Linked DNA regions of Homo sapiens. The protein of the gene in region 1 purifies or fractionates together with the protein of each later gene. This does not show direct contact. Each region holds a gene or a part of one and is shown in the gene's direction. Other genes may lie near its edges.

The links. The genes of interacting proteins can lie anywhere in the genome.
Region 2: the proteins of LARP7 (region 1) and YBX1 purify together in Homo sapiens (affinity purification with mass spectrometry; 5 studies listed by BioGRID and IntAct, with this or other methods). This does not show direct contact.
Region 3: the proteins of LARP7 (region 1) and SSB purify together in Homo sapiens (affinity purification with mass spectrometry; 4 studies listed by BioGRID and IntAct, with this or other methods). This does not show direct contact.

What each region holds. Positions count from the first base shown.
Region 1 is NC_000004.12:112,653,140-112,659,155, forward strand, and holds the end of LARP7 (la-related protein 7), read left to right. Parts: coding exon 1-97; intron 98-928; coding exon 929-1,020; intron 1,021-4,107; coding exon 4,108-4,188; 3' UTR 4,189-4,447; downstream 4,448-6,016. UniProt on the Homo sapiens protein: RNA-binding protein that specifically binds distinct small nuclear RNA (snRNAs) and regulates their processing and function.
Region 2 is NC_000001.11:42,691,360-42,699,460, forward strand, and holds part of YBX1 (Y-box-binding protein 1), read left to right. Parts: intron 1-2,130; coding exon 2,131-2,164; intron 2,165-4,839; coding exon 4,840-4,929; intron 4,930-5,282; coding exon 5,283-5,585; intron 5,586-5,820; coding exon 5,821-5,903; intron 5,904-8,101. UniProt on the Homo sapiens protein: DNA- and RNA-binding protein involved in various processes, such as translational repression, RNA stabilization, mRNA splicing, DNA repair and transcription regulation.
Region 3 is NC_000002.12:169,793,791-169,801,913, forward strand, and holds the start of SSB (lupus La protein), read left to right. Parts: upstream 1-5,080; 5' UTR 5,081-5,186; intron 5,187-5,511; exon of another isoform or gene 5,512-5,726; intron 5,727-7,161; 5' UTR 7,162-7,170; coding exon 7,171-7,236; intron 7,237-8,123. UniProt on the Homo sapiens protein: Binds to the 3' poly(U) terminus of nascent RNA polymerase III transcripts, protecting them from exonuclease digestion and facilitating their folding and maturation.

The sequences.
Region 1 (6,016 bases):
CATGCTAGATTTAAAACTCCTGAGGATGCTCAAGCAGTAATAAATGCCTATACAGAAATTAACAAGAAACACTGCTGGAAACTCGAGATCCTTTCTGGTAAAACTTCATAGACGTTTCCTTTTTTTTTTGTTATCATCCTTATTGTGAGTAATATATTTTCTGAGTTTGGCTAATGAAACTAGTTTTTTTTTTTTGGTCTTGCTCTGTCGCTCAGGCTGGAGTACAGTGGTGTGATCTCAGCTCACCGCATCCTCCACCTCCCAGTTTCAAGCAATTCTCCTGCCTCAGCCTCCAGAGTAGCTGGGATTACAGGCGTGTGTTACCACGCCCGGCTAATTTTTATATTTTTATTTTATTTTTTGAGACAGAGTTTCGCTCTTGTTGCCCAGGCTGGAGTGCTGTGGTGCGATCTCGGCTCACTGCAACCTCTGCCTCCCGGGTTGAAGTGATTCTCCTGCCTCAGCCTCCCAGGTTAGCTGGGATTACAGGCATGTGCCACCATGCCCCGCTATTTTGCATTTTTAATAGAGACGGGGTTTCTCCATGTTGGTCAGGCTGGTCTTGTCTCGAACCCCGGACCTCAGGTGATCTGCCTGCCTTGGCCCCCCAAAGTGCTGGGATTACAGACATGAGCCACTGCACCAGGCAATTTTTATATTTTTAGTAGAGAAGGGGCTTTGCCTTGTTGGCCAGGCTGACCTCTGGTGATCCTCCCTCCTCGCCCTCCCAAAGTGCTGGGATTAGAGGTTTGAGCCACCGCACCTGGCAAAACTAACTATTTTTTTTCTATTCTGTAATATGTGTAAAGTAGCATTAAATATAATCAAAAACTGTCCTAGTTACTATTATTGAGAATGTAATGCCTTGAATATGGTTTTTCAGATATGTTCTTCTTTTCATCCATCAGAGTCTTTGTTTGTTTTTAAGGTGATCACGAACAAAGGTATTGGCAGAAGATTTTGGTTGATAGACAGGCAAAACTTAATCAGCCTCGGGAAAAGAAAAGAGGCACTGAAAAGGTAATTGATTCATTTTTGTTTTTTTAGACTAAACTTTCCTTGAACGTTTAATGCCAAAGTCAGTACTAGGTAGTCATAAAATGATCGTAGTTTTGCTATTACCTAACAAAAATTTACTGAGTATATACTATGTTTTAGGTTGGGAGGGAAAAGTCATTTCTCTAGATTTCAAAATGTATGAAATTGAATTATTTTTCTCACAAGGATACATAATTTTAATTTAGATTTTTTCTTTTTAACCAGTGATATACTTTAACAGTCTTGATATCTGGCTGCTATGTCTTGTAGTTTGGTGATAAATGATTATAGAAAGATTATCTTCATGGTAAAAACACAATGTATTCAGAATGTAGTTTATAAAGATAGGAGGCTCCATAGATAAGATGGAGAGACTTTATGCATAGTGTTTCCTATAGCAACGATAAGCTTTATTCCTCTTTCTCTAAGATAGTAGGTAATACAAACAAGCTTAAATAATTTAAAGCAAGCCCCTCTTTCAGTAATTTTATTTTTCTGTCACTTAAAATGATACTGGTCTGATCAGTAGTGGAATCACACCTGGGAATAGCCACTGCTTTCCAGCTTAGGCAACATAGCAAGACCCTGTCTCTTAAAGTTTTAAAACAAATTATTATACATGTAAAGGTTAGTACATTTTAAAAGTGCCTGGAACAAAGTAGGGTACATAATACCTAATATTAACTACAGTCATCAAAATTTAGAAATGCATATTATAAAAGTGTAAGAAAAATGAAAAAGATGAACTTCCTTTTTTGTTAGGTGAGCAAGTTAAAAGTCCTATTTCCTGTAATCTAAGCTTGTTGATTTGGGGTCATATTTATACAAAAAAAAAAAAAAACTAACTTAAAAAGCAAGTGTTTTTCATCAACCTTCTTCTACCATTGCCCAGAATTTATCGTGATTTGTGGGGAGGTGTGAATTTTGTTTCCTTGAAAGGAGACTGAACTTGCTGTGGTGGGGAAGCCTCCTGTGCTTCCCAAGGATTCTTTCAGGGATATGAGGTGTTAATTTCAAAGCCAGTTTGAGATTATTCAAATGTTAAAATCACTAATCCAGAACTGGTAACTGAAGTGAAGTCACTTTGTTAAATAATACCCTTCTAATTGGTGTGAAATTTCATTTAGATTTTATATATTTTTAAAACTAGGAATAAACCTTTTATTTTTCATTTTAAAAATTTAGAGCTCATCTTTGACTAGGAAGTTCTTAAATTGAGTTGGAACACAACTCAGTTATGACGTCAGGATTGTCGTTAACGCAATTTGTTAAGTAGCTATGGAAGTAGCCAGTTGACTCTTGTCGTGAAATGAAACGGAGGTTAACACAGAAAGTAAGTGCTGTGCAAAGCTTGTTGGAAAAAAGGAGTAGACCATAATTAGTTTAGCCAACTTGTTTGCTAGTTAATTCAGCTAATGATTTTTGAGTGCCTTGTGTTAGGCACCATTCTTGGAACCTGGGGTAAAGCCATGAATCACAAAGTCCCCTACTTTCATGAAGCTAACAGATAAACAATATAGTTTAGGTGATGACCAGTGCTAGACAGAAAAATAAAGTGTATTGCAGGAGAGCATTGTAACAGCTGAGGTTGTCTGGAAAACTCTCTGCAAAGGTTATGTTACAGCCAAGACCCATAAGGAAGTGAGCGAGTAAGCCCCAGTAAAGTTTAGAAGTATAGCTTTTCAGGCAGAAGCAAAGAAAATGCAGAGACCGGAAGGGAAGACTGTCAGGGACTAGAAGACCAGTGTAGTTGGAGTACTAGGAGCATCTTAGTAAGTAATGGAAATTGCTTAGAAAAAAAACTAGTAGAACATCAGTGAATCTGCCAAAAGGTTACATAAATACCTTACTGACCTGACAGCCCAATATTTCTACAATAGTGTTGTATTTGGCCCATAATTGAGTAAAAGTAAAAAAATTCTGGCTCTTAATATTCACATTATGGGGCCAGGCACGGTGGCTCATGCCTATAATCCCAGCACTTTAGGAGGCTGAGGCTGGTGGATCACTTGAGGTCAGGAGTTGGAGACCAGCCCGGCCAACATATTGAAACCCTGTCTACTAAAAATACAAAAATTAGCCAGCTGGCACGCACATGTAATCCCAGCTACTGGGGAGGCTGAGGCAAGAGAATTGCCTGAACCTAGGAAGTGGAGGTTGCAGTGAGCCAAGATGGCGCCACTGCACCACAGCCTGGGCAACAGAGCAAGACTCTGTCTCAAAAAAACGAAACTAAAATAATATATTAAACACAAGTAAATTAAATTAGTGATGTATCACAAAAGATCAAGAAGATGAAGGAAAGGTCTGCCAAAAGGGATGTCTCCTATTCATTTTGCTAGCCTAAATCTTTGTAGTATGCCCTATGATTTTGAACACATTGGTAAAAATAGATAACAGCTACTAGAGACAGAATGAAGCTTATTTCTCTTTGGCTTTTAAAACATTTGAATTCTTTTCTGTAAAAATTACTGATACTCAGCAGGTAAAGGCAGAATTTATAAAATTTGTGAACAGCAGCATGGGTATGATAGAGTTCTAAACATCTTTGGATTTTAATTCACCTCAATGATGAATAATAGGCTTTTAGTTTAATCTAAAAGTGAATTCCTTCCAATTGCCATATGGTACCAAACACTTTAAAACTATTTAAATGAATACTCATTAGAATCTATATTTTTTAGAGAAAAAGATTTGCATTTACTCCAAAGTTTAATATTTTAACTTTTTTTTCTCAAGGAAGCTTTTGGAATATTTTAGACATTTTAAACAGTTTTCTTTTTTATTCTGTGTAATTTCATTTGCCTTCCTTAAAAATATTCAACAATTTATGTAAGGGTGTAAGAAATAGGAAATAGTAAATAGCCTTAATAACAGATTTGATTTGTAATTGATTTGACCTGAGCATAATTATCTCATTTGTCATCTTCTCGCTGTTTTTAAAAAATTTCCATTTAAGCTGATAGCTGTGAAATTTTTTCTAGTCATAGTTTTGTGTGTGTGTGTGTGTGTGTGTGTGTGTGTTTTGAGTATCCAATACATTTTAATTTTTGATTTATTTCTCTTTAGTTAATCACCAAAGCTGAAAAGATTAGACTGGCAAAGACTCAACAAGCGAGTAAACATATAAGATTTTCTGAATATGATTGAAAAAAAAAACAGTTCACCTCTTAATACTTCACAAGATACTTGAGCTGTTCTTGGGAGATTCACTTTTATTATGGTAGCACTGCATAATTAATGTGTTTTTAATTAAAAGAAATATCTTTGTTCCTCAACTTGTAAATAAGACTTTTTTCTAGAGACAAATATGATGTATACCACAATTTTTCTTAAACATTTTATTTGTTGAAATTATCTTAGATGTCAGTGTCAGGTGATTTAGTAAATAAATGTGTTTTGAACATTATTTGGAAATGTGTTGATTTTGTTTTTATACTGTAAAAACAAAACATAATTGCAAAAATACTACATGAATATATATAAAGTTTAGAGAAATGTTTAACACTAAACTCTCACTGTACTTAGTTTGTAACTTGCAATACCTTCAATACCTTTTCATGTTGATTTATACAGACATGTTTAATAGTTCATTCTATTCATTCCACTTTGCCTATCTGAGCTTCCATTGAACAATAGACCATAGGGATTGGTTCTAATTAAAATGTTAAATTTTTAAAAGAATTGAGTTTCTTCATAAATCAAGTTAAATGTTTTGTTTTGGTTAGACAAAATAAAATGTATTAGGTGCTATTAGCACAAGAAGGAAAAAATAGAGGAATCAACCTTAGGCAGAACTGAGCTCTGTTATTTTATTCAGGAAAATCATGGGAGTGAAGCATTTAAAGCCTTCCCAGAATTGAACTTAACTGGGTCCATACAGGACTGTCATCTTAATCTCTTATCAAAATCTCAAGGAAGTACTCTGGACAGCCATGGAGTTAATTTCATTGGGCTACAAACCAAATCCTGAATCTGTCAGCTTTATCCAAAATTGAGGGTCTTATTTGGCCACCCCCTTCCATGGATTGTGGAGAGGCTACAATCAGGATCTGTTCACTTCTATAAGCCAAATATTTGAGGAGATTGGCCATCTCACTGGTTGGAGTGACAGCTAATTGCTACAAAGTTAGTGCCATGGCAAGTTCCCACTCACCCGCTCCATGAAGTTTTTCTCTTTCCATGAAGGAAAGCTAGCATATGCATTTTCATGGAGGAGAAGGAAGATGTATAAATAGTTGCTAAGTCCTATTATGAGGATTATAACTAAAGATGCTCCAGTAGATCCAAAATATCAGGAGTAAATCAAGGTTTCAAGAATTCAATTGATGTCAGTGAGGAATGTCTTAAGGCAACATGGAGATGTTACCAAGTAAAATTTCAGAAATCCTCCCGTTAGCAGTTTGTAAAACTATCATTCAACAAATATTTATTGAATATCTGTGTTTGGACATTGTAACACTTGAGAAACATTGAACAAAACAAAGATCCCTCACTCATGGAGTTTATATTCCAGCAGCAGATACAGACAGTAAACAAAAATAAGTAAATTACACAGTTTGTTAGAAAGTGACAAGTCCTAGGAAGAAAAAATGCAAGGGAGGAGAACCCCTATTTATTCTTTCTTTCTTTCTTTTCTTTTCTTTTTTTTTTTTGAGACAGAGCCTCCAGGCTGGAGTGCAGTGGCATGATCTTGGCTCACTGCAACCTCCACCTCCTGGGTTCAAGCAATTCCTTGCCTCAGCCTCCCGCGTAGCTGGGACTACAGGCGCATGCCGCCACTCCTGGCTAATTTTTGTATTTTTAGTAGAGACGGGGTTTCACCATCTTGGCCAGGCTGGGTTTAAACTCCTGACCTCGTGATCCACCCTCCTCGGCCTCCCAAAGTGCTGGAATTACAGGCGTGAGCCACCACACCTGGCCCTCACTTTGTTTCATAACATTTAATTAAGTCCTACAAAAAGCTTTTGCATTGACA
Region 2 (8,101 bases), on another chromosome or scaffold:
GCTTTCTCTGTGCAGAGACAGGGTCTTGCTCTGTTGCGCAGGATGGAGTACAGTGGCATGATTATAGCTCACTGCACCCTCATTTCCGGGACTTGAATGGAGGCCCGGCTAATTTTTTATTTTTTATAGATATAGGGTCTCGCCACGTAACTACTTTTAATTATTTTTATTGCCGGGTATGATGATATTGATATGTGAATACCTGTTGTAACTACATTAGAAGGCATAACAAACAGTCAGAGCCACCACAAAATGGATTGATAAAGAAATGATGTATTACCCAGATACCATGAGTAGCATTATCAGTAATGAAAAATTCTCCACAGAAGCTGCATTTTTAGTGAATTTAATGCGTATTAAAACAGTACAGAAATACATACATGACTCAGATAACAATAAACAAATTTACTTTCTATACCAAATCTTTACATAGTCTTCTAGCAACTAACACCCACCACTTCCATTAATGCAGATAGTGCTCCCTATCTTTGGAAAAAAATTTTATTTTTTTATTTTTTTTGAGATGGAATCTCACTCTGTTGCCCAGGCTGGAGTGCAGCAGCTCACTGTAACCTCCGCCTCCTAGCTTCAAGCAATTCTCCTGCCTCACCCCCCAGAGTAGCTGGGACTATAGGCACACACAGCCACGCCTGGCTAATTTTTTGTAATTTTAGTAGAGACGAGGTTTCACGATGTTGGCCAGGCTGATCTTGAACTCTTGGCCTCCCAAAGTGCTGGGATTGCAGGCGTGAGCCACTGCACCCGGACTGGAAAAACTTTAAATACCCTGCCAGGGGAAGTATTGCCCCTGTTGAAAATCACTATTCTAGACTTTGCCTGTATTTGCCTTTCTTACTCTACCAGTTTTTTATTGTATTTCCCCTTAGAGCCTTAGAGTTTGAAATTCAGTCATATTGGAGAGCAGAACTAATAAATGATGGCTGTAATCTGTTTTTGTGGTGCCTATGGAGTTATGGACAGATGGACATTAGGTACAGCCATCATTTCCCTAGGCAATCCTAATCATCTAGCTTGAAAGGTCAGTTTTCAGTCACTTGCCTTAAGTCGCTTTTACAGTTTACCTGTTCTGTTTTTTTAATTATCCTGTTCCCATCAATTAAAAATGTTCTTATAATAATCCAAGCTATAATTTACAGGTCAGATTTAAAGTTAATTTTATGTGGATCCTTTGATGCATATGTTGCCCCCAGTTCAGCAAGAAGCTAACAGTCAGTAAGCCAGTTTGTCCAGTTCATTGTAACCTTTGTTCCCTTTGTCATTAAACGCTAGAGCTACTACTGAGCTTTTTCTCACTCTGACCTGACGGAGTAAAGAGGGTGAGGCAGGCCACTGCAGGCCTGGAAATCCGTTTCCTTCTCCAGTGGTGATTCTTGCTCCTCGTGTTATCACCTTAATCCCAATATCCAGGCTAAAAAGTGAGATTATTCTCTACCCCCTCGCTTCTGACATCCAGTCATCCACAAAGTTTCTCATTTTGCCTCAAAAAGAGATCTCAAATGTCTTTTTATACATGGCTCCGTGGTCTAAACCTTCATCAGTCCTTGTCTGGACTTGTGGAGTAGCTTTTATAACTGGGCTTTTCTTACATTCAAACATACCTTATCACCCAAAGGTCACAGTTCCCATTAGGTTTCACTCTTTGCGTTATACATTCTGTTGGTGGGGAGGGGGGTTCTCATTTTTATGATCTCAAGGAAAGTTGGTAGTTGGGAGATGCAGGATAAGGTGAGAATGTAACTACTACTTCTGTTGGTAACCATGCTCTAGAGGTAAGAGGAGGGTGTGCTAGAACAGTTAATGTTTAATAGGATAAGGAGGGGCAGAATATATTTTGCTAGTCATTGCTACCCTCTTAATTATGGCTCAGTAGGTCACACTTTAATTTCTTAGACTTTTTTTTTTTTTTGCCTATCTTACGGGTAATGAGGCTACAACTGTTTGCAACTGCTGAAGTCTTGAAAGCAGAGAGCATGGTGGCTTGTGTTTTTTGATTTTTGCCAAATTTCCTGGTACCTAATTGGCAGCCAGAGAGTCTCTGGGAAAATTAATCTTTGACAACATGAGATTTATTTCATTTTCTAACTTGTTCAACTTGGTTCTGTCTTGCAGGAATGACACCAAGGAAGATGTATTTGTACACCAGGTGAGTGCTTGTGTAGATATTTGCACTTCTGATTCAAGGATTGTAAGAAGAAAAGGTTAGATATGTTCTCAGCTTTTGTTCCTTATAAAAGGTTAAGTCCAACCACCAGTTTATTTACTTACGACAGGAGTAGTAGCATGCTTAAAAATGTATACGTGGAAATGTGTTAGAGTTGACTTAATTATCCTAGACATTTCAAATTGGAATTTTGTCAACAGCTGTGGCTTTCTCAAATGTTGAGTCAAACTCACTGCATTAAATATTTATACCTAATTTCAGATGAACAGATTATTCCATGATTCTAAAGTTGAACAAATAATGTTGCTATAAATACACAGAAACTTTGGCAAGAAGTTTTCAAAGGCTTTTAGGTGTACCTGTAGGGACAAATCTCCATAATCAAGGGTAAATAAGACAGACCTGCAAAACATAGTAATTGAAGTGAGTACTTGAAAAGTAGCATAAAGAGCCTTCTGCTTACTTTAAATCACTTTGAATGGGTATTGGGTTTTTTTTTTTTTTAAACCTTTGGAGAGTTTTGGCTGGCTTGGAAAATGAAAAAATTTCACTAGTTTAAGGTTAAGTGGGGGGAAGTGTGACAAGGTTGGCAGCTGCTCATTAAATAATTTTTAGATTGGCTTCCAGTGATTTGGGAAGAGAAAACTGTTAACATAGGATGAGTACTGATGAGTACTGCATAGTGAACTTTCTCCCTAAGTATCATTTAGGGAAAATGTTTGCACATTCAGGAATTAAGATTATTACTAATGTAAACCACTGCCAAGTGTATGTTAATACTTCAAATTTAGATATGCTGTAGGCTACATTGAATGTACTTATCCTCACAGATACGAAATGAGTAGGAAAAAATATGTTTGTGCTATCAGTTTTCTCACTAAGGCTTTTGAAATATTGTCAACTTGTATTAAAATTAGAGACCATAACTACTTTTTTGTACTATAATCCAGAAATCAAAAGACCTAAAAGTTAATATCCATACTCACATTTAATTAGATACTAGCTTTTATGGCAGCATGTTTCATAGGAAGGGCTGTCATAGGTTGGTGCTTTGTAGCTCACTGAAGTGTCCTACACAGTATTTGATGACAAGGAGGAAGCTATATCAATTTCTAGTACACCCAAACCCAATCAGGTAGTTCAGGGTCAAATGTAATTATGGAATCATTTAAATTCTAAATGTAAATAAATACAGGACTACTTCAGACAAAATGTTGTTTTAAAGTAGATGTTTTATAAAATTGGTATTCTTGTTTGGAAGAACACAGCTCAACTGTTCCTTACTCCCCTTCTGCATGTTCAAAAGAATGTGTAGACTTAGGAACAAGAGACAGCAAAGTTTCTCGGTCTTGTTGCCTGTTGGCAACCCTTAAGGGTTGGGGTTGGGGCAGGGGTGGAGATGTTGATAAAAATAAAGAGTTGGGATTTTAATTATCCATAATTCTGCTATCCCCTATGACTGCAGGTAATTGATAGTTGGCTATATCTGAAAGGTATGAAAACTATGTGACAGTTTAGATGACAGATGAGATCAATTATTTGACTCAACTCACCCAGTTGTACTGATTCACAAGGTGCCACCAATATGCTTTCATTTTTTTGGAAGTGGTTTCAACATGTAGTTGTTTCTTGGGACTTTGGCTGCTCAGGTCTTAGTGGTGTATCAGGGAGACTGCAGTTCTGGGCAGCTTCACTTAATTGGCCTCAGATTCGTTGATTGTCCTGTCTCCTCTGCAATGGAAATGCATGAGTGATCCTGTAATGGATATAGCTGAGATTTGGAGTGAACATGGGATTTGGAGACCCAATACCTGGGTTTAGAAAGTCTCCTTACTAACTGTGTGACCTTGGGCAAGTCACCTAACTTTAAAGCCTGTTACATTATCTGTGTAATGGGATTAACAATACTTTCACATGTCCTGTCTCATAATGAGATTGAATAGATAGTAAGTGAAAGAATGTTGCAAAAAAATTTCATAGAAACGTGAGATGTTACTCTTCCTCCCTTCTCTTAACAGTCTGGAGAAAGTAGAAGCAACAAGTCTCTAATACAAGATTTATTGAATTCTGGGGAGGTGATAACTAACAATTCCATGCAGTCAGATCATATAAAGAATGACATAGTTAATACACATGAATTGCATTTCCACTGATGTATTATCAGATTGGAAGGGATTTTGGTTGACATTTGTAATTGAGTTTGATACGGTAACACAGGGGCAAAGTTGGTTTGGTCAGCTTTGAAGCATGCAAAACCAAACTCGCCTGTCATCTAAACTGACGCAGTGTGGGGCCACCTTCTCCTATTAAGTGCAGTCCTCAGGGGATAGATGGATATCCTCATTTGTTAAAAGTTATATATAATGCTTTTGCAAAAAGCAGTTTTTAAAATGATGTGTCTGTCTTGAGTGTTAAATTACTTGTTTTAGTTTTGTAAATAGTGGTACAATGCTGGGGCCTTGTATGATTGGAGTGTTTTTGTTGAAGTTGGGGATAGTGTGGTCCCCGCTTTCCTAAATTTATTGATGGTTTGGTCTTATTTAAAGCAAATCTTAAGTGTATATCCAAGCTAAAATAATATTGACTCTGGTACATTTTAAATGAAAAAGCACATTATTCTCCCCTGTTAATCTATTTTTGGAATGTGATATTACTAGACTGCCATAAAGAAGAATAACCCCAGGAAGTACCTTCGCAGTGTAGGAGATGGAGAGACTGTGGAGTTTGATGTTGTTGAAGGAGAAAAGGTGAGGATGCTTTTTGTGTAAAGGTTTGACTTCAGTATGGAAATATTTTGGAGGTCTCATCCATTAGGATGGTGGCTCTAATGTGGATGGATGTGTTCAGGTGACCTCATGAACACAGGTGCATCAAGCCTAATGTTCTGGCTGCAGTTAGAGGGCAATCTCTTCAGAACAGTGAGGAACTGATATTTAGTCATTTCTGTGCACCCCTGGTCACGCAGTTGCGCCCCCCCCCCCTTTTTTTTCCTTAACTTTGTTGTTTTTTGCTTTGTTTGAAAATGTTCTGATTTCCTTTTGAAAGTGTTGAAAGTGTTCTGATTTCCTTTGTCACTATCAATATGTAATGGCTTTTGTAGGGTGCGGAGGCAGCAAATGTTACAGGTCCTGGTGGTGTTCCAGTTCAAGGCAGTAAATATGCAGCAGACCGTAACCATTATAGACGCTATCCACGTCGTAGGGGTCCTCCACGCAATTACCAGCAAAATTACCAGAATAGTGAGAGTGGGGAAAAGAACGAGGGATCGGAGAGTGCTCCCGAAGGCCAGGCCCAACAACGCCGGCCCTACCGCAGGCGAAGGTTCCCACCTTACTACATGCGGAGACCCTATGGGCGTCGACCACAGTATTCCAACCCTCCTGTGCAGGGAGAAGTGATGGAGGTAAGTTTCACCATCAACAACAGCAATGTGATAAGTTCTGGTAGGACTGTTTAGAGCTGTTAATTATATGGAAAGCAACTTGGATTCCTAGTAAGAACCAAAAGGATTAATTTATAATGTAGTCACAATTACTAGATGGTCTGTTTTGTTTGTTTTTTAACTCTTGGATTTATCTGGTTGGGTTTTTTTATTATATTACTGACCCAGTAGGCTTAATTTCCATTGTCTTTTTCAGGGTGCTGACAACCAGGGTGCAGGAGAACAAGGTAGACCAGTGAGGCAGAATATGTATCGGGGATATAGACCACGATTCCGCAGGTATGGTCCACGTAAACATGTTTCTATTAAAATTTCCTCAAACCCGTGTTAGGACTCAGCAATATCATGCCTCTCCTGCAGACTCATTTTTCTGTTAACACTTCACGTTTTCTTTCATCAGATGCCTAAGAGGTGAACCTATTAAAAACAGCTTGTATAGATGAGGTCTGCTTTATACATAAATTTTTTTAGAAAATGATGAGGGTTTGGAATTTCAAATTTTCTGTCCTTGAACAGGTAAGATAATATTTTAAACCACACCTTTTAAACCTGCCTCCTTGGTAGGGAGAAAGGAAAGCATTAGGAGTATCTGAATTGTACCATGGCATTAGTGAAGAATCAACAGTGTTATCACTTGAAATGGCATACATTATCTTCCACTAAACACTTCTCAGTTTAGATATGTACCCCCTTTTTTTTGGAGTTGGGAGTTGTCAGCTCAAAGTTGCAAAATGAAATTGCTCCACCAAGAATTTACATTCTGCGGGGGGAAATCCAGTCTGTCGTTAGACAACTATCTACTTGAGTGGGTATTAGAAATCTTATTAATAGATGTCATTATTAGAGTAATCGAGGAAAAATTCCATGAACCAAGCATATTTTAGTCCATGCCGTAGTATACTTTGAGGCAGTGTTCCCAGTCCCACGGTGGTAGGATAGGATGGTGTAATAGTTGTTTCTCTAAGGGTTTGATATCAAAGCATTGAGTTTTCATAGGTGATCCCCAAAAGCTGACAGGTACCTCTGAAGAATCAAACCAATACAGTAATAACGCATCTTAACTGATCACTTAAATCGCAACTTTTAAATCCCCAAATTTTTAAGTGTCAAGTTTATTATTCTAGAAGTATCCAACATATCCAAAATATACTGTGAGTCTATAAGAGGGGGTTTCTGTATATAGGTTTTTAAATTTTACCAAAGTTGGAGCACTTAGTGAAGTTTTAGGAACTAGGGAATCTAGTCGAGGTTGTATTACATGTATTTATCAGCACATGTACATTGAGAGTTTTGCAAGAGCAGCTGATGTCATCATATTTTTTGTATTAATATGTCTTGTCCTGAGTTTTCAGTTAAAAGAGCTGAGGTCCTAACTGATCACTACCACAATTGAAGATCTCTGATTCAGTTTTCTACCAGGAGATTGTGTTAGCCAGATGCTGGATGTTGAAGATAGATGGGTTTTTATTTTTCAGAGTAGGTCTAAAATAGCCTCTCATGGCAGTCCATCTGTTAAGTCCATGGGTTCCAGCAGCAGAATCTTTGGTTTACCTTTTGTTACACTGAAGAGCTTAAATGTTTTGCCTAGTTTCATTGATGTCCTTAAAAATAGCATAATTTTGTGTTTGTATTCAGTGCTTCAGTTCACCGTTGAGTAAATTGTTTGTCTTTATATTGACAAACAAGCTTGCGGTTGATTTGTCTCTTAGAAAGGTATCTTTGTCCATTGTTACCCCTCCAGTGCAGAGGTTTTTGCCTTTTGGTTTAAGTTAGACTTAATGTCTACGTGTTTCAATGTTTAGAATGCTCAGTCCTGCCAGATAGTTGCAGAAGTAACATAAAATTGCTTGGAAGTTATCAATGAATGCTAGACTTTCCAAACTGTGCAGGAATCTTTTGTTCAAATGAGAGTAAATGAAACATGCTGCCCCTAATGCATGGAATGGTGTGAAATTCTGACTGGTGTGGGTTCAAGAGCAAACTGAAAGGGAAATCTTAAGACAGAGTATAGTACAAGTGTTGCTGAAAATGAGACTAATAGTAGTAAGGGGAAAATGGGGGGTCAAAAAGGGAGGTTTTTTGTTGAGAAATAACATTTATAGGCTGAAATGCAATCCAGGATAACAGTTGATGGCAGGAAAGTGACTGCTGGAACTGTTTTCTTTCTCAGAGAGGGTAGGGTTTTGCCCACAGGTGAAAATGTTGACCTTTTGTTAGGAACCTGCCGTTTTCCTGTGTAAGAAACAAGAATACATGGGCACGCATGTGTTAATGGGAAGACATGGAAGCCTTTGGTTGCTAAATTGAGACGAAAGTAAAGAGGAAGTTTGAAAAGTTTGGGGCAAAGAACCCTCTAGAACAGAAAATAGAGATGGTAAATTTATAAGTAATAGGATAACGATCATAAATTAGAAGTGAGTTCACCCAGCTTGACTCTGTGTTTCTAGCCATTTGGGCATCAGGCTCAGGTTGGGCAG
Region 3 (8,123 bases), on another chromosome or scaffold:
TCATCATCCACATCTAGCTAGTTGAAGAAAAGAGAAAGTGAGGTAAGAGAATAAATTCATTGCATTTAAGAATTACCTGGAAGTTGCACACATCACTTCCACTCATGTCTCATAGGCCAGACATTGTCTTACTAAGCTTCAAGGAAGGCTGGAAAAATGTAGTTTTTATTTCTGATTGGCCATACATTTTGTTGAAAGCCACAGGTGATTTTATTATTATATAGGAAGGAGAGAGCCAAGAGATAAGTGACAGTATCTGCCACAATGACAAAATTGGTTTAGGTCAGCTTGCAAATCTTCTGTCTTAGTCTGTTTTGTGTTGCTATAAATGAATACCCGAGGCTGGATAATTTTTTTTAAAAGAGGTTTATTTGGCTCACAATTTCGCAGGCTGTACAAGAAGCATGACACCCACCAGCATCTTCTTGGCTCCCAGTAAGGGCTTTTCTGCTGAGTCAAACATGGTGGAAAAGGTCAAAGAGAAGCAGGCATGTGTGAAGAAAGACCAAATCTGAGGGGCACCCTGGTATAACAACCCATTGTTTCATAACAACCCATTCTCATGGGAACTAACCCATTCCTCTGAGAGCCAATCAGAAGGGAAAGTTACTGGCTACTACAAGAACAGCACCAAGCCACTCATAAGGGATCCATCCTCATGACCCATACACAATCCATAGCATCTTCTCAGCAATATGTACTCAGTTGGTCCCTCCTTCCTTGAAACATTCCACTCTTTAGCTTCTATGGTGCCATATTTTCATAGCACCTCTCAGGGTCTGCTTATTCTAGCTGCTGTACAGGCTTCTCTTCTTTTATTCATTATCCAAAAAATTCGAATGCTAGAGGGGTCAGTCTGGGATCCTCCCATCTTTGTTGTCTATACTCTTTTTAGGAGAGCTCATATAATGACATGACTTAAAATGTCTGCTATATACTAATAGTTCCAAAATTTATATCTTTAACCCTGACTTCTTCAAACTCATACCAACTGCCTACTTGACATCTTTACCTTGATGTCTAATAAGCATTTCAACCTGAAACTGAGGGCTAACCTGATTTGGCCCACCAAACTTAACTTGTCTCATTTGTTTTTAGTTAATTTTAAAAGCTACATATTTAATAGCTAAAAGTCATGTAGCTAAGCAATATATACATAAAATTCCATTAGCTTCCTTACAGATTACATATCTGAGATATAGGTCACCATGGTAATGGTTGCTTGTTTTTCAGGAACTTAGAGTTAGCTCTTGTCCAGCTTAAGCCAGCTGAGACCAACAACTCTTCAACTGGGCCTGCATGAGTGTCCAATGGGTGACCTTTTGGCATCACAGGACCAAGAGCTCCACCCTCAGATCATGCTAAAGCTGCAATTTTGTGGACATGTGTCCTATGAAGAGCTATGAAGCTTGACTATGCTTGTGCACAGCACCAGTTGCCTCACTGTTTCTTACCCCAATTACCTTTCCCCATGCCTCAGACCACCTTGCTCCTTTATCCCGTAAATACCCTAAAACCCCATCTTTGGGAGCTGGATTTGAGATCTGTTCTCCTGTCTCCTCACTTGGCTGCTTCATGAATAAACCCTTTCTCTGCAGCAAAATTTGATGTCTCAGTGATTGGGCATATTGTGCAACAGGCAGAACAAGCCCAATTCAGTAACAAAACCAAATCTTCAAAATAGAGCAATGCTATTACCCTAGACTAAATGTTCTTAATATGAGGCTGGGAGCAGTAACCAGCCTCATAATTAAGAAGCTGTTTCGAAATGTAGGTGGGATTTTTCATTGTCACAGTGACTGGGGGTTGCTACTTATATTTCTTCTGAAATCTCTTTTTAAACTCAGCATTATGTTTGTGAAATTTATCAATGTCAATTCATGTAGATCTAGTTTATTTTTCTCACTGTATAGAATTTCATTATTTAATTATATCACAATTTAATTTAGTTACCCATTCTTTTGTGGTGAACATTTAGTTGATTTCCAGTTCCCTAAATTTACAAACCATATTGCTATGAATATTCTTTTTTTTTTTTTTTTTTTTTTAGCGACGGAGTCTTGCTCTGTCATCCAGGCTGGAGTGCAGTGGCATGATCTTGGCTCACTGCAATCTCCGCCTCCCAGGTTCAAGCAAGTCTCCTGCCTCAGCCTCCCAAGTAGCTGGGATTACAGGCACGTGCCACCATGCCTGGCTAATTTTCGTATTTTTAGTAGAGACGGGGTTTCACCATGTTGGCCAGGCTGGTCTCAAACTCTTGACCTTGTGATCTACTCTCCTCAGCCTCCCAAAGTGCTGGGATTACAGGCATGAGCCACTGCACCCCGCCCGAATATGCTTGAACATGTTTTCTTGTGTACAGATGTGAACATTGCTCTAGAGTATAATCTTTTTTTTTTTAATGAGACAGAGTCTTACTCTTGTCGCCCAGGCTGGAGTGCAATGGCGCGATCTTGACTCTCTGCAACCTCCACCTCCCAGGTTCAAGCAATTCTCCTGCTTCAGCCTCCCTAGTAGCTGGGATTACAGGCATGCACCACCATGCCTGGCTAATTTTTGTATTTTTAGTAGAAACAGGGTTTCACCATGTTGGCCAGGCTGGGAGTATATTCTTTAGAGTGGACTTTCTGCACCATCAGCTATGCACATCTTAAACTTTAATAGATATTATCAATTTGTTCTCAAAGTAATTGTACTAAGTGTATACCCAGAAAGATGGTCTTTTAGTGTACTGACTTACAAAGTTATGCTATGAGAGATGGATACCAGTATGAGAGAGAGTCCTCTCCTAGGTACTGTAAATGAAACATGAAGCTTCCTGGTCTGCCGCCAGGAATTCATTTTCCTCAGAGGGTGTGTCTGCATGGAACTCTGCTTCTGGAAGGGAACGAGGGAGAAAAAGAAAAGATAAGAAAAGGGTTGGACATGGTGGCTCATGCCTGTAATCCCAGCACTTTAGGAGGCTGAGGCGGGTGGATCACCTGAGGCCAGGAGTTCGAGACCAACCTGGCCAACATGGCGAAGCGCTGACTCTACTAAAAATAAAAAAATTAGCCAGGCATGGTGGCGGGCGCCTGTAATCCCAGCTACTCAGGAGGCTGAGGCAGGAGAATCACTTGAACCTGGGAGGCAGAGGTTGCAGTGAGCCGAGGTGGTGCCACTGCGCTCCAGCCTGGGCGACAGAGGGAGACTGTCTAAAAAAAAAGAAGAAGAAAGAAAAAGATAAAAAAGAAAAGACAAGAAAGGGAGAGCAAAGGACCAGGGACCTGATGAGAACATGAAATAAATGTTTTTTTTGCCGGTGTGACTTCTGATAATAGGCTGTACTGCAGTTCTGCCCAGATGTTGTGGGACATGAAGAAGCAGTTATATTTGTTTAGGTGGCTCTGTCTCTAGGCAGATTCTGACTCTTCTTTCTATTCCCAGTGTTAAGCCTCCATACCAGGACATTAACAGGCATGTAATAAACAGTTAGCTGAATGGATGAATGAGAGTACCCTGACACTGATATTATTTGTTCTGTTAAATACATATATTCTCACTGACTTGATCAAAACAAGAATTAAGGTTTCAATTGTGTCTGGCATAAAATAGAGAGTAGATAAATATTCTTTGAGTGGATAAAAGATAATCTAATTAATTTGAATTTAAACTACCTGAGCACAACCCTGTTAAATATGTTTTTTCTCATTGGCCTTAAGAAAAGAAAAAAGAGCCCAGAGCAGTTTGAACTATGTGAGGTATGCGGAATTTATCAGGCACAGAGAGATATGAGTTTGGGACTTCAGTCATGTCCCTACACCCCTGTATTAGTTAGTTCTCATACTGCAATAAAGACATACCCAAGACTCGGTAATTCATAAAGAAAAGAGGTTTAATTGACTCATAGTTCCGCATGTCTGGGGAGACCTCAGGAAATTTACAATCATGGTGGAAGGGGAAGAGGCATGTCTTACACAGTGGCAGGTGAGAGGGAGCGAGCAAGAGCAGGGAAAACTGCCCTATAAAACCACCAGGAGAACAGCATGGGGGAAACCATCCCCATGATCCAGTCACCTCCCACCCTGTGTGTGGTTCCTCCCCTCCACACTTGGGGATTATGGGGATTACAATTCGAGATGAGATTTGTGTGGGGACACAGAACCAAACTATATCAGTCGCCATGCTTGGGGGGCAATTGTTTCAAGTCACTTTGTCCCTTACTACCTGCTTCATCCATTTTCATGTTCTTCGAATTTGTGATACAAAGAAGAATGTATAGCCAATCAATAGCTTGTTATTGTAATGTAAGTTATCGGTAAACAATTTAGGAACTGCCTCTTCTTTTTTCTTTAAAAGCTACTTGTAAGTGCTGCTAATCAGAGCATATATTCAGGGCAATTTGAATCCATGCTCTCATGTGGCAGTCCTCAAACTTGGCTCAAATAAACTGTCTACTTATATTAATTTTGCCTCAGTTTTTCCCTTTAGGTTGACAATATTGCATCAAGTTGAATACTCACAGCAATTGTATGAACTAGGTAGTATTTATTACCGGCCCTATTTATACCTGAGGAACAGAGAAGTTGAACAACTTGTCCAAGATCACAGTTTCACAGCAGGAGGACCATTATTTGAAGCAGGCAGTCTGATTCCAGACACCCAGTTTTTACACGCTGTACTGTATTGTTTTCAAAACTCTAAGATTTCATGGATCTTTGATTTTTTTTTTAAATTTCACTTGTCCTTTTTTTTTTTTTGAGAACTACTACAACACGATGTGTGTGTGTATTCACACACATTTTTGGAAAATATCTGAAAAAAAACCCAAAGCACTTCACATGAATGGAGGGCCAAAGGAAGGGCTGGGGTACAGACGCCGTCCAGAAATACTTAAAAATAAATGTTTATACTAACACAAACTAGCAGCCATTCCCCTACAACCTGGAGTACTTTTTAACCCAATCTGTTTGGGATTGAGGGCGGGACTCCAGGGTCCCTGGGAGGCCCCGGCAGCCGCGCATGCTCAGAGCACAGGGACCGCTCCACCTCGTCCGTGGCCCTGCCCACCCAGGCCGCAAGAGCTGCCGGGACGGTCCCCATCTTCTTGGAGCGCTTTAGGCTGGCCGGCGGCGCTGGGAGGTGGAGTCGTTGCTGTTGCTGTTTGTGAGCCTGTGGCGCGGCTTCTGTGGGCCGGAACCTTAAAGGTGAGTAACTCTCGGTGGCTAATGAGAAGCTACAAAAGGGTCCGCTTTGCTGGTGCGCGACTGCGCGTTTCCGTTCTTTACTGCTTCTCGCGGCGTCCGTCCGCCCCTCGCCTTCCTCACGTTCAGGCCGAGCGCCGCGTGGGCCGCAGCCGGAGGCGGCGGAGCCGAGGGGGCGCGGGCGGCGGCGAGGCTGCCCCCGCGAGGAATGCGGGATCCTGGGGTTCCCCGCACGTGGCTGGTGCCCAGGCAGTTCCGCGGTTGCTTAGAGACGGGACTGTGGCTGCCCTCATCCCCATTGCGTCTTTTTTTTTTTTTTTTTTTTTTACCTCCACCGCCTTCTAGTCTCACCGAAGGCTTGTGGCCATCTCTGTAAAGTTTCTGGGGAGGTGGGCACGGGGTAAACGCCGGAGGGTTCTGTGGAGCCTATGGGACTGACTGGAGGCCAAAGAACTTTGGGCCGCAGATGTACACCAGCGTCACTCTTTTGGTCTGTTAGGGCCTTCATCGCTCACATCAGGTTTCAGTGTGAAACGGGAAAACGTGGGTAATATTTCATTTACAGTCGTACATTCTGGAAAAGTATCTGATGAAACGCAGTTCCAAAATTAGGCCAAATAGGTTTTGCAGGGTCTAAATAGTTATTTTATTTCATCGTTTGCTTTGTAGGGGGCCCTAGATCACGGTAGTAACTTAGGAGTGTAGATTGTGATAGACAAGACAATGCATAAAATTGAGTAATTTCTCTAGGGGGATGTGGATCACACAGTACCCCGTTGCAAGTGCTTCCTATGTGTATCCATGGTATCGAATGCAATTGCAGTGTGTCAGGGGATGCTTCCAGGAAGTGTACCTACATCAGTTCATAACTAGAGTCAACTAATGGCAATATTCTCGATGATTTGTTCACATAACTTTTGTACAGTTGGGATGACTGGGTGGCTTAGTAGAGTCCTGGAGGCAAGTACTTTGTAAGTAGAAGACTTGGTTTGTAATTTCTAGCAAACTAATAGCACAGCTTCCTTTTTTCATTGCAGTGCTAATGTCAGGAATACGAAACAGGAAACTGGCTATCCAATGTATTAGTAAATTAGTAGGCATACTCCCCAGTTTAATGTTGTGTTAGTATGACCACATTCTCCCATTTTTGTTTTCGTATGTTCCTTAGCATAGAGTATCTAAGGAACTGTAACATTTTTCACCTTAAAGTTATGATGTCTAACTTGGTAACAAGGTTTGGGTAAGTCAGTTGTGACTACATTTTAAAAGAAATGAGGCCGGGCGCGGTGGCTCACACCTGTAATCCCAGCACTTTGGGAGGCCGAGGCGGGTGGATCGCCAGAGGTCAGGAGTTCAAGACCAGTCTGACCAACATGGTGAAACCCCGTCTCTACTAAAAATACAAAAATTAGTCAGCCGCAGCCGTGGTGGTGGGCGCCTGTAATCCCAGCTACTCAGGAGGCGAAGGCGGAATCGCTGGAACCTGGGAGGCAGAGGTTGCAGTGAGCCGAGATCGCACCATTGCACTCCAGCCTGGGCAACAAAAGCGAGACTCCGTCTCAAAAAAAAAAAAAAAAAAAGAGGTGAACCCATACCAAACAAATGCACAGAGAGCCATGGTAATATACAGATAGATAGTTATCTGTTTAAAACTGGAAATGGTTGGTAAGTGATTGGAGTTTTTTTCCCTAAAGCTTGCTTGACCAGCTAAGTGAAGATAAACAGTTTCTTGTTATAGAAGATGGGGTAGTGATTTACTGAAAGACAAGTTTTTTATAGTTTTTAGATTTTTTCATCACTTATTCCAAAGTGTTGCTTTGTTGAGATATTTGAGAACTGAGTAAAGAAACTGAACCCGTGAAAATAGAAATTCTTGATTTTTTAAGAAAACGGGATATTAATACTTTGTAAACATTATCTTTCTATTCTTGAGTTTTATATAAAAAATAACTTTATGCTAATTTGGGAAATTTTACAGATAGCCGCAATGGCTGAAAATGGTGATAATGAAAAGATGGCTGCCCTGGAGGCCAAAATCTGTCATCAAATTGAGGTATGATTCCTGTGCTATAAACTGCAAAAACAAGTTCCTTGAAAGAAAATACAGAAAGAACATTTAATTCTAGTACATGGACATATTCAACATTTGGTTTGCCTTTGATTCTTAGATGAACATATAATAGCATACAGTTTTATATTGGTGGAGCCAGGTTGTGAAACTTAAGATGTACAAACATTTCAAAAGGTAACACTATAAACTAGAGTTACTTAATCTTTTTAAAATTTTAGTTTCATAGTCTCATATAAAATTTTAGCTTCATAGTCTCATATAAAATGAGAATAATAGTAGTTCCCTCCTCATAAGGTAGTTTGGAGGATTAGTGAATATAATGTTAAGTACTTAGAAGAATTCCTGACACATAAGTAACATAAAAGTCCTTGGTAAAGTACCTTCCCTGTTAAATAACACTATATTTTTGATGATCTTAGTTTTTTTCTGCCCAGTCAGTTCTCAGCTATTGTAACTTTAATATAGTTTTTTTTTTTTTTTTTTTTTTTGAGATGGAGTCTCACTCTGTTGGCCACGCTGGAGTGCAGTGGCACTATCCTGGCTCACTACAACAGTATTGGCTCACTGCAGCCTCTGCCTCCTGGGTTCAAATGATTCTCCTGCCTCAGCCTCCCAAATAGCTGGGACTACAGGAGCACGCCACCACACCTGGCTAATTTTTGTATTTTTAGTAGCGACAGGGTTTCACCATGTTGGCCAGGCTGGTCTCGAACTCCAGACCTCAGGTGATCTGCCCACCTCAGCCTCCCAAAGTGCTGGGATTACAGGTGTGAGCCACTGTGCCCAGCCAGTAACTTTAATATAGTATCTGTTTTCAAAACCCTCTTAGCATTTTTTCAAATTTAGGTATTATGTTTATGTTAACGTAA